2 linked regions of the Homo sapiens genome follow. The protein of the gene in region 2 interacts with the protein of the main gene of each other region in a pairwise test. Each region holds a gene or a part of one and is shown on either strand. Other genes may lie near its edges.

What was found. The genes of interacting proteins can lie anywhere in the genome.
Region 1: the proteins of ITGB2 (region 2) and MS4A7 interact in binary tests that used the Homo sapiens proteins (3 or more experiments, as listed by UniProt).

The regions. Positions count from the first base shown.
Region 1 is NC_000011.10:60,380,314-60,385,031, reverse strand, and holds part of MS4A7 (membrane-spanning 4-domains subfamily A member 7), read right to left. Parts: intron 1,904-4,718; 5' UTR 1,891-1,903; coding exon 1,744-1,890; intron 1-1,743. UniProt on the Homo sapiens protein: May be involved in signal transduction as a component of a multimeric receptor complex.
Region 2 is NC_000021.9:44,885,343-44,890,002, reverse strand, and holds the end of ITGB2 (integrin beta-2 isoform 1 precursor), read left to right. Parts: coding exon 1-25; intron 26-507; coding exon 508-727; intron 728-1,107; coding exon 1,108-1,310; intron 1,311-3,100; coding exon 3,101-3,267; intron 3,268-3,572; coding exon 3,573-3,635; 3' UTR 3,636-4,050; downstream 4,051-4,660.

The DNA of each region.
Region 1 (4,718 bases), on a different chromosome or scaffold from region 2:
TTTGAATGCACACGGTAAAGTATAAAGAGTATAAAATACATTATAATTTGTTATATTAAAGAGGAAAAATGTTACAAGGAGCCAATCGATATGCTTCTAGAGAAAGTCATGTATAGCTAACCTCTTCTTTTCTGATAGGATTATTAAACCAGCAAATCGGAAAGTGATCATACACACATTTTAACTTTTTTTGAAAAAGATACTTGACAGTTTTTAAATTTATTTTCTTGAAAAGTAGATAAAAAAGTTGTCCAGTGAGGTGGAAATAGAGAGCAAACTTTTCACAGGAGTGTTAATGAAGAGATTTTTCAGTTGAAATTAGATAGAGCAGGTCATCTCTTCTGCTGTAATTCATCTTATTTTGTTCATCATTGGATTTTAATAATAATTATTTCGCAAGTGGAAGAACTGAAGTTTAGCTGTTAGCTTGCTCTAAAGCCCATGCTTTTGCTCATAGTTTAATGCATGTGCAATTGAAAGATGATGCAAACATAGGAGAAATAAAAAAAGAAGTCAACCATTCACATCATCAACAGTTATTGAATACCACAACAGGTATGTTGTGTGCCAGGCACGAGGGAATGAAGCAAATGAAAATCACTACCATTGGAGAGCTTATATGTGTACTATGTCTTGTCTGTAAAGGTACAGACAAGTTCCATGCAAGGCAGAATAGAGTTAAGAGCAAAGTAGTAGGACATGAGGCTTGTGAAGTACTGGAGGCATGGTACAAACTATGTAGGGATTTTTAGGCTATGTTTTACCAACTTTGCTTTTCATTTTGAGCAAAAAAGGAATCCCACTGGATAATTTTGAGCCAGGAGAATACATGATCTAACTTTCATTTTTAAAAGAGTACCCTACCTGCTGTACTAAGAATAGATTGTAAAGAAACAGGGCAGGGAGATCCATCTAAATAGGCAGTGAATAGGACCTGGGTATTATAAGAGGGTATTCAAAACCACATGGAGATTAAAGTTCTGGATATGAGGGATGATGATCTGGGACACTTGGATGTCTTATAGTTACTCATATGAACGGGGAAAAATGGGTCATGAGATTAGTCTTGATCGTCTCATCTCAAAATATTTGAAAAATAAGCTCAAAGTTAATTTAATCATATTGAGTAAAATCCATATGGTTAAATAGAAAATTTTTACTGTACTAATGACAAAATAAGAAAGACTAATTTGTGGCTGGGCACAGTGGCTCATGCCTGTAATCCCAGCACTTTGGGAGGCCAAGGCGGGCAGATCACAAGGTCAGGAGTTCAAGACCAGCCTGGCCAGTATGGTGAAACCCCATCTCTACTAAGAATACAAAAATTAGCCGGGCGTGGTGGCGTGCACCCATAGTCCCAGCTACTCGGGAGGCTGAGGCAGAAGAATCACTTGAACCCAGGAGGCGGAGGTTGCAGTGAGCTGAGATCGTGCCACTGCACTCCATGCTGGGTGACAGAGGGAGATTCTGTCTCAAAATAAATAAATATATAAATAAATAAAATAAGAAAGACTAACCTGTTAATTGTGAAGCATGCTAGTGAAAAAGATCTAGTGGTTTTAGTTTCTAGAAACTGCTGCAGAGCTTTAAGAGTCTTCCCTTAAAGCTCCATTTCATGTCCTCATTAGCCTGGAGTCAGCCAGAAAAGAGTGAAAGAGTTTCCCAGACCCACTGTAGATCTGTAGTCTAGATACATTTACAAAGTATTTTCTCAGTATTCCCCTTATAATGAGGTGGACTTACCCCAAGAACGGTGGTTTCTGTTGGCAGCCCGTTCTGCAGGTAATCTTCGTTTTGGTACATGTGTCCAGGTTTCTCTCTTTGAGGGATAGTGATGCCCTTTGGTGTAAAGCTGTGAGAAACCCCCATGGTTTGGGATTGTAATAGCATGATGCTGATGATGCTGGAAGAGGCATCAAAACTCAGTTACTTCCCAAGGTTTGACTTACAGACATAAACTTCCCAGGGACCATACTTTGTAGGAACTTAAGAAGGTATTTGCCATTATTCCAAGGCTGGTTGTCCTTCAGAAACAAAACATGGGGATCAGTGGAGCATTGGAAAGTGGGCATGCTGGGCACAGTTCATCCATTGTGGTCAAGAAGCATGTCACTGGGAGAGTACTGTACACATTTTGAGGGGTCCCACAATTGAGAGGTGAGCAAATCACATAGAACTTGCTTTGTAGCCCTGAATGTGTCCATCTCCCTCTCCCTCCAGTGACCTCTGCTTCCAGCTTCCCTTCCCTATCTCCTGTATCTCTGCTTCACTTGTGCTACCTTCTCACACCACATCTTCCAGGATTACACTTTTATGCTACACCTGCACTGATCAGTCTTCTACTCCAGTCTTCATTTTGTCTTCGTAAAAATGTTGAGGATGAATGCTGTTCCACTTTCCTTTCCTATAGCGAGATGGCCTGTCCCATCCGGAATCTTCCTCCTTGCTTATATTGGCTTCGTAATTAGTAATGTAAACATTTACTTAACTCCTGCTGAATTCCAAGCATTAGACCATTGCAGCTCTAATCCTTATAACAACCCTGTAACTTACATGTTATTAAATCAATTTTATACATTAGAAACCTGGGGCTAATAAGCTCAAGTGACTTTTATTGAATGAAATAGTCACATAAAGTACTTAGCCTGGCACTTAGAATGTGTTCAATATATGGTAGCAAATATTAACAGCCTGTGTTTACATGACTGGATTGAGACTTGTCTGGCTCAGACGCTTGTGATATTTTTTTCTCTATGCCATGTTAATTCTCCTCCTCTTCCTCTTCCTTCCTTTCTTCCTTCCTAACATTTCCAGTTCCCTTGTAGATTCCAGGAGCAAGTTGTCTGCCACCACTAACTCAGCAGCATTGCTGGGCCTCTGTGGTGTCAGCAACAAGGCTCAGCACCTGAAATGTTGCCCAGATTTGTTTTCAGCTCAACATTCTCCCTACTGAAGGCCAGAGTTTAGTTAAAGGCTTGTCATCCTTGAAAGGTGCCACAGCTCTGCTGCCTGACATTTTGCCTCAATGTGTTGGTGCTTTAGGAATGGTTCTGGCCTCTCTTGGGTGGAGTGAAGAACATGTAAAAATTGGAAATGACACCTAGAATCTCTTCCTAGTGAGGGAGATGGAAAAGTGCACTGGGATGGGAGTCCAATGCCTAGGCATCTAGTTGCACATCTGACCATATGTCTTGGAGTCCAGTCGTGTGTTCAGATCCCATATCCACCAGTTACTGCTAAACTCACCCTGGGCAAGGTATTTTCACCACTTCATAGGTTTGTGGTACAGGTTGGATAAGATGACACATATAATGGACTCAGCATAGGGGGAGGCATGTGATAAACTCCCAAAACATATCAGTTTTATCTAATATTCATTGGAAGCCCAGTTCTGATATTGATGAGCTGGCCGTAGGCAGGATACTTTCCCTCATTCATCCCCAGTTTCCTTATCTGTAAAATAAGGATAATGACACTATCCTGAAGGACTCTTGTGAGGATTTGAATGACACACGTGAGTGTCTTTTGTTGTAACTCTCTGAGTTTTATCAGGTGTTCCATAATAGTCGATCCATGTTTGGACCTCCATTTTATTTCTACTCCTAGATCTGTGCCTTAGTCTAGTTTCTCATGCTCTCCGGGCATGAGATACTTTATCTGAAGAATTATTAAACCTAAAGTTCTCTTTGTTTAAGGAGATAGTTTTCATTTCTTGGAATTTTGAAATCTGGGTAGAAGTGTGGGTGAGGTTACATGTCCTATGAGGGGAATAATGTTGAAGCTGAATCCCTGCAGTGGAGTCAGGGTGAGCCTTCCAGCACATCTTTAAAGCCAGAGAAGGAGAAAAAGTGTCAGGCTTAGAGAAATTCTAGGTTCCAGAATCAAACAGTAGTTCATGATAAAATGATAATCATTGCTAACATTGATTGGGCACGTACTATGAATGTGGCATTCTATTAAGAGCTTTGTGACAGTCTCATTTAATCTGCAGTCTCAGAGATGGGTGCTGAACTTTGAAGATAAGAAAAATGAGGCTTGGAGAGGTGAAATAGCTTGTGCAAGATTGCTTATCTAGCAGGTAGTGGAGGCAAGATTTGGGCACAGGCCATCTAACACCAGAGCTCTTCTATATCCCTGTAGGTTTGTTCTTGCCCGGCTAGCTACAACTGATTCTCATCCTCTCTATTCTTCCTCCCCTATTGTTGAAGCATTGGCTGCCACTCATCAGTTCCATATCCTCTCCCAGGGACATTGCTGATCTTAGGGAATATAGGTTGAAGATTTCTTTTTCCCAACTTGCTTTCATGTTGTAGAAACTTGGCTTTTACCTTGCTCTGTGTGGCTCAATAGCCCAAATATACCAACTAGACTCCTTCCTACTAGTCTTCGTCACCAGCCTCCTGAGTTCTGGGTTCCTTTCTTTATTTTTCGAATCTCATACCTAAGGACTGCAGAAAATGCTTGATTCTCAGCCTGAAGCTAGGACTCGAAAGTTTAATTGATACTTTCAGGCTATAGCCTATCTGATACCATGAACATTTATTTTCCTTTGTTATTTCTTAACTGTTTGTTCTGTTTGAAAGAGTGCATAAAGTACCACCATTACAAGGGAATACAGTTTGAAGAAGAAAACAAATTAGCTCCTTAACTTTCAACTGCCACCCGATCACTCTTGTTTCCTATGCACATATTCTTTACATTCTCTCTTCCCATCTGTC
Region 2 (4,660 bases):
AACGGCCAGGTCTGCGGCGGCCCGGGTGAGCCCGTGGGTCCCTGCTGGACAACGGCCGTCCTGCGGCACAGACTTGGTGTTGGGGGGTGCGTTCTGGACCATTCAACGAGTGGAACAGAAAGGGGGGATCCTGAGGACAGACAGTGCAAGTCTCGCCCAGCCACCGGGCGTCAGCAGGAACTTGGATGGCCCTGCACCCCGCCCTGCCTCAGTTTCTGTGTCCATGAGGACAAGGCGTCCTTGTGGGGAGGGCCCACAGGAGGAACGGTCATAGCCCTATTGAGGTCCCATTCACAGCAGGGCAGGGGAGGTCCAGACTGGCCAGGAGGCGGCCACGTGGCTGGCGGGGGCAGAAGGGCCTGGCTAGTGGCCCCATGCCTTTTGCTCAGGAACATCCCCCAGGCTGGAGGAGGCAGGCGGGCCGGAGGGAGCAACCGCAGTGGGGTTTCGGGCGGGTCTCGGTTCCCAGGCCAAGCAGGAGCTTAGCCGTGCTGCCCCGTCTTCCAGGGAGGGGGCTCTGCTTCTGCGGGAAGTGCCGCTGCCACCCGGGCTTTGAGGGCTCAGCGTGCCAGTGCGAGAGGACCACTGAGGGCTGCCTGAACCCGCGGCGTGTTGAGTGTAGTGGTCGTGGCCGGTGCCGCTGCAACGTATGCGAGTGCCATTCAGGCTACCAGCTGCCTCTGTGCCAGGAGTGCCCCGGCTGCCCCTCACCCTGTGGCAAGTACATGTGAGTGCAGGCGGAGCAGGCAGGGCGGGCAGGGATCCCCACTCCCCGGCCACCTACCCAGCAGCCGGGCTCACTCGGGGACCCCAGTGAGCACCTCTGCACCGCGGGGTTCTCTGCGGGTGCGTCTGGACTGAGGGGCCCTCCGCGGCCGCCGTGCCCCTGTGTCCCTCCTCCCTCCTGTGCGCACCTGCCGCGGGCCCTGGGATCAGGCTTCCAGTTCACCCGCTGCACCCGCATCTGCCCCACTTGGGCCCCCTCCTTGGCCTGAGGGCGCCCCAACCCCACCTGCCCCCCCTGGTGGACACACACCCAAGCCCGAGCCCCCGTTGCCGGAGCCCCCGCACACCCTGGCACCGATGCTCACACCTGGCTCCCCGCAGCTCCTGCGCCGAGTGCCTGAAGTTCGAAAAGGGCCCCTTTGGGAAGAACTGCAGCGCGGCGTGTCCGGGCCTGCAGCTGTCGAACAACCCCGTGAAGGGCAGGACCTGCAAGGAGAGGGACTCAGAGGGCTGCTGGGTGGCCTACACGCTGGAGCAGCAGGACGGGATGGACCGCTACCTCATCTATGTGGATGAGAGCCGAGGTGAGGCCGCTGGGGTGCAGCGGGGACCGGCTCCAGAGCTCCGGCTGCGGGGTCTCCGCAGAGGCGAGGGTGGTGCGGAAGGAGGATCTCACCTCCAGTGTTGTGGGCCCAGCAGGGTGGATGAGCCATGCGGGATGCCCTTGGCATTGCAAGGAGGCCAGAGGCCGGTCCCCTCACCCCCAGCAGCCTCCCCTTTCCCTCCCCTCCTCACCTGACCCCACATCAAGCTGGGCAGCAGACGGCCTGCTCCCTGGGGGCACCACTGCTCCACACCGGGCAGGCCCACCAGCATGCCACACGGCCCGGGCCATCTCCCGCTGGATGCCTCATGGGGCAAGGCTTGCAGTTGCAGGTCCCCAGGGGTGGCCCGCGGTCAGGTTGCTGCGTGAGGCTCCTTTGAGGGGATTGGGAGATCCTGGTGCTCGGCTCTCAGCCCTGGAGGGGCCCAGGGCCACCAGGCACCACCGTCCCCATCACTCGTTCGGCTCCAGTCCAGTCGGAACCAGTCCCAGCCCCACAGTGACCTTGGTGGCACTGACCCTGTCTCATTCGGCTCCAGTCGGAACCAGTCCCAGCCCCACAGTGACCTTGGTGGCACTGACCCTGTCTCATTCAGCTCCAGTTGGAACCAGGCCCAGCCCCACGGTGACCTTGGTGACACTGGCCCTGCTTCTTCAGGTCTCATGTTCCACAGGCTCCTGAGAGGCAGAGGGGCTGGGGCTGGGGGGCCGCTGGCGGACTCCATCAGGCATGGCCAGCAGCCGGCCAGGACTCTTGCAGAACTGAGACCTGGGAGCTCCTCCCTCACCAGGAAGGGACCCGAGGCAGGCGGCGGGGGTCTCTGAGCCTGTAGGTGACATGCCTGGAGCTCACAACCCACATGTGGGCCTGGGGCTGCAGACCCCCACCTGCCAGGGCAGGAACCCCTGCGGGCCACTTTGAGGGACAGACTTGGGTCACGTCTGGTTTGTGCAATCCTGGCCAAGTCACTTCACCTTTGAGGACAGGTGAAGGAAGGCAGGTCCCCCAGGAAAGGCAGGATGGCAGGAGGGGGCACGGGGAGTGAGAGTGCAGGTCAGGATGGCAGGAGGGGGCACAGGGAGTGAGGGTGCAGATCAGGATGGCAGGAGCAACCACAGGGAGTGAGGGTGCAGGTCAGGATGGCAGGAGGGGTACAGGGAGTGAGGATGCCAGACCAGGCCAGGGACTGCACTGAACGCTAGTGTCTGTCCCAGGGTCAGCAGCTGTGGGCCTGGCCCACTATGGCCCACAGTCCCCATGCTCAGGAGGTGGGCACAGCTGCCGTGGGAACCAGGACCTTGCGTTGCTCATCCTGGCACCGGCCTCACCTGCTGAGCTCTGGTCTCTGGTCTTGTCCTTGACGACCACAAATCACTTTCACAGTATGGGGAGTGAACTCCAGCAGGGACCCTGAGCCTGGTTCTGAACTCTGCTGTAGGAGAGCGGGGTCCCTCGCACTGTGTCCTACCCCCCAGTATTAGCACTCTGTCCTGGCTGCCCGGTACCCTGGCCCTGCCTTCTTCTCTGTCAGCAGGGGTGGTGGCAATGGCCCTTAGGTTTCATTTGGAACCACAGGGCCTGGCCTGGAATCCAGCAGGGGCTGGGCCAGGTTCTCACTGACCCCTGGCCATGGTGATGGATGGTGAGCCGGGGCCCTGGGAACCTCCGTCTCTCTAAGTGCTGTGTTGTGGGGTGACCTCGGACCTGTGGGCACACGGCTCAGTGAGATGGGGCTGGACTGACGCTCAGGTGTGCTGCTTCTTCCCTAGAGTGTGTGGCAGGCCCCAACATCGCCGCCATCGTCGGGGGCACCGTGGCAGGCATCGTGCTGATCGGCATTCTCCTGCTGGTCATCTGGAAGGCTCTGATCCACCTGAGCGACCTCCGGGAGTACAGGCGCTTTGAGAAGGAGAAGCTCAAGTCCCAGTGGAACAATGTAAGTGGCCGTCCTTGGGGGTCCCACGCAGAGGGGCACGTGCGTCCCACACTATGCGACCTCCTGCTGCGGGAGGCCGTGGACACCCGTGTGTGGCTGCACCCCGGCCTCCCCAGGCAGCTTGTCCTCTGGGCGTCCGCCGCTGTGGGTGAGCTTGGCTGCCGGTGCTGGGACCCTGGGGGGGCTGCCCCACGTCTAGCTCTTCCTCAAAGTGACGGCTTCCATGCGGGGAGTGTCCTCAGGGAGAAAGATTCTGCTCTGAAAACCTCCCACACTCACAAGCCCCTGTTTGCATTTCCCACCAGGATAATCCCCTTTTCAAGAGCGCCACCACGACGGTCATGAACCCCAAGTTTGCTGAGAGTTAGGAGCACTTGGTGAAGACAAGGCCGTCAGGACCCACCATGTCTGCCCCATCACGCGGCCGAGACATGGCTTGCCACAGCTCTTGAGGATGTCACCAATTAACCAGAAATCCAGTTATTTTCCGCCCTCAAAATGACAGCCATGGCCGGCCGGGTGCTTCTGGGGGCTCGTCGGGGGGACAGCTCCACTCTGACTGGCACAGTCTTTGCATGGAGACTTGAGGAGGGAGGGCTTGAGGTTGGTGAGGTTAGGTGCGTGTTTCCTGTGCAAGTCAGGACATCAGTCTGATTAAAGGTGGTGCCAATTTATTTACATTTAAACTTGTCAGGGTATAAAATGACATCCCATTAATTATATTGTTAATCAATCACGTGTATAGAAAAAAAATAAAACTTCAATACAGGCTGTCCATGGAAACTGGGCACTGTGTCCGCTGTATTCCCCCGACTGGCAAGGTGGCCAGGCACACGTGGGCCCTGTCCTGCCCGCTGACCTTTGCCACACAGGCACACAGCTGGCTTCAGACCATGGGGCAGGTTCTGTTTTCCCTTTTCCTTCCTCACCTGCTGGTCTATACAGAGCCCCGCTCTGAGGCCCTGTCCCAAATCCTAGGTGCATTTCCGTAAACGGTGGTGGCCCCACCAAAGAGGTGCCTGCGGCGGAGCCTGGCCAGGGCAGAGGCAAAGCAGGAAAGCGGGTACCTGTCTGCCCTCCCTCCAGCCATCTACACCTCCCCTCCAGCCATCTACACCTCCTCTCCAGCTCTACACCTCCCCTCCAGCCATCTACACCTCCCCTCCAGCCATCTACACCTCCCCTCCAGCAGTCTACACCTCCCCTCCAGCCGTCTACACCTCTTCTCCAGCCGTCTACACCTCCCCTCCAGCAGTCTACACCTCCCCTCCAGCCATCTACACCTCTTCTCCAGCCATCTACACCTCCCCTCCAGCAGTCTACACCTCCCCTCCAGCTGTCTACACCTCTTCTCCAGCCGTCTGCACCTCCCCTCCAGCAGTCTACACCTCCC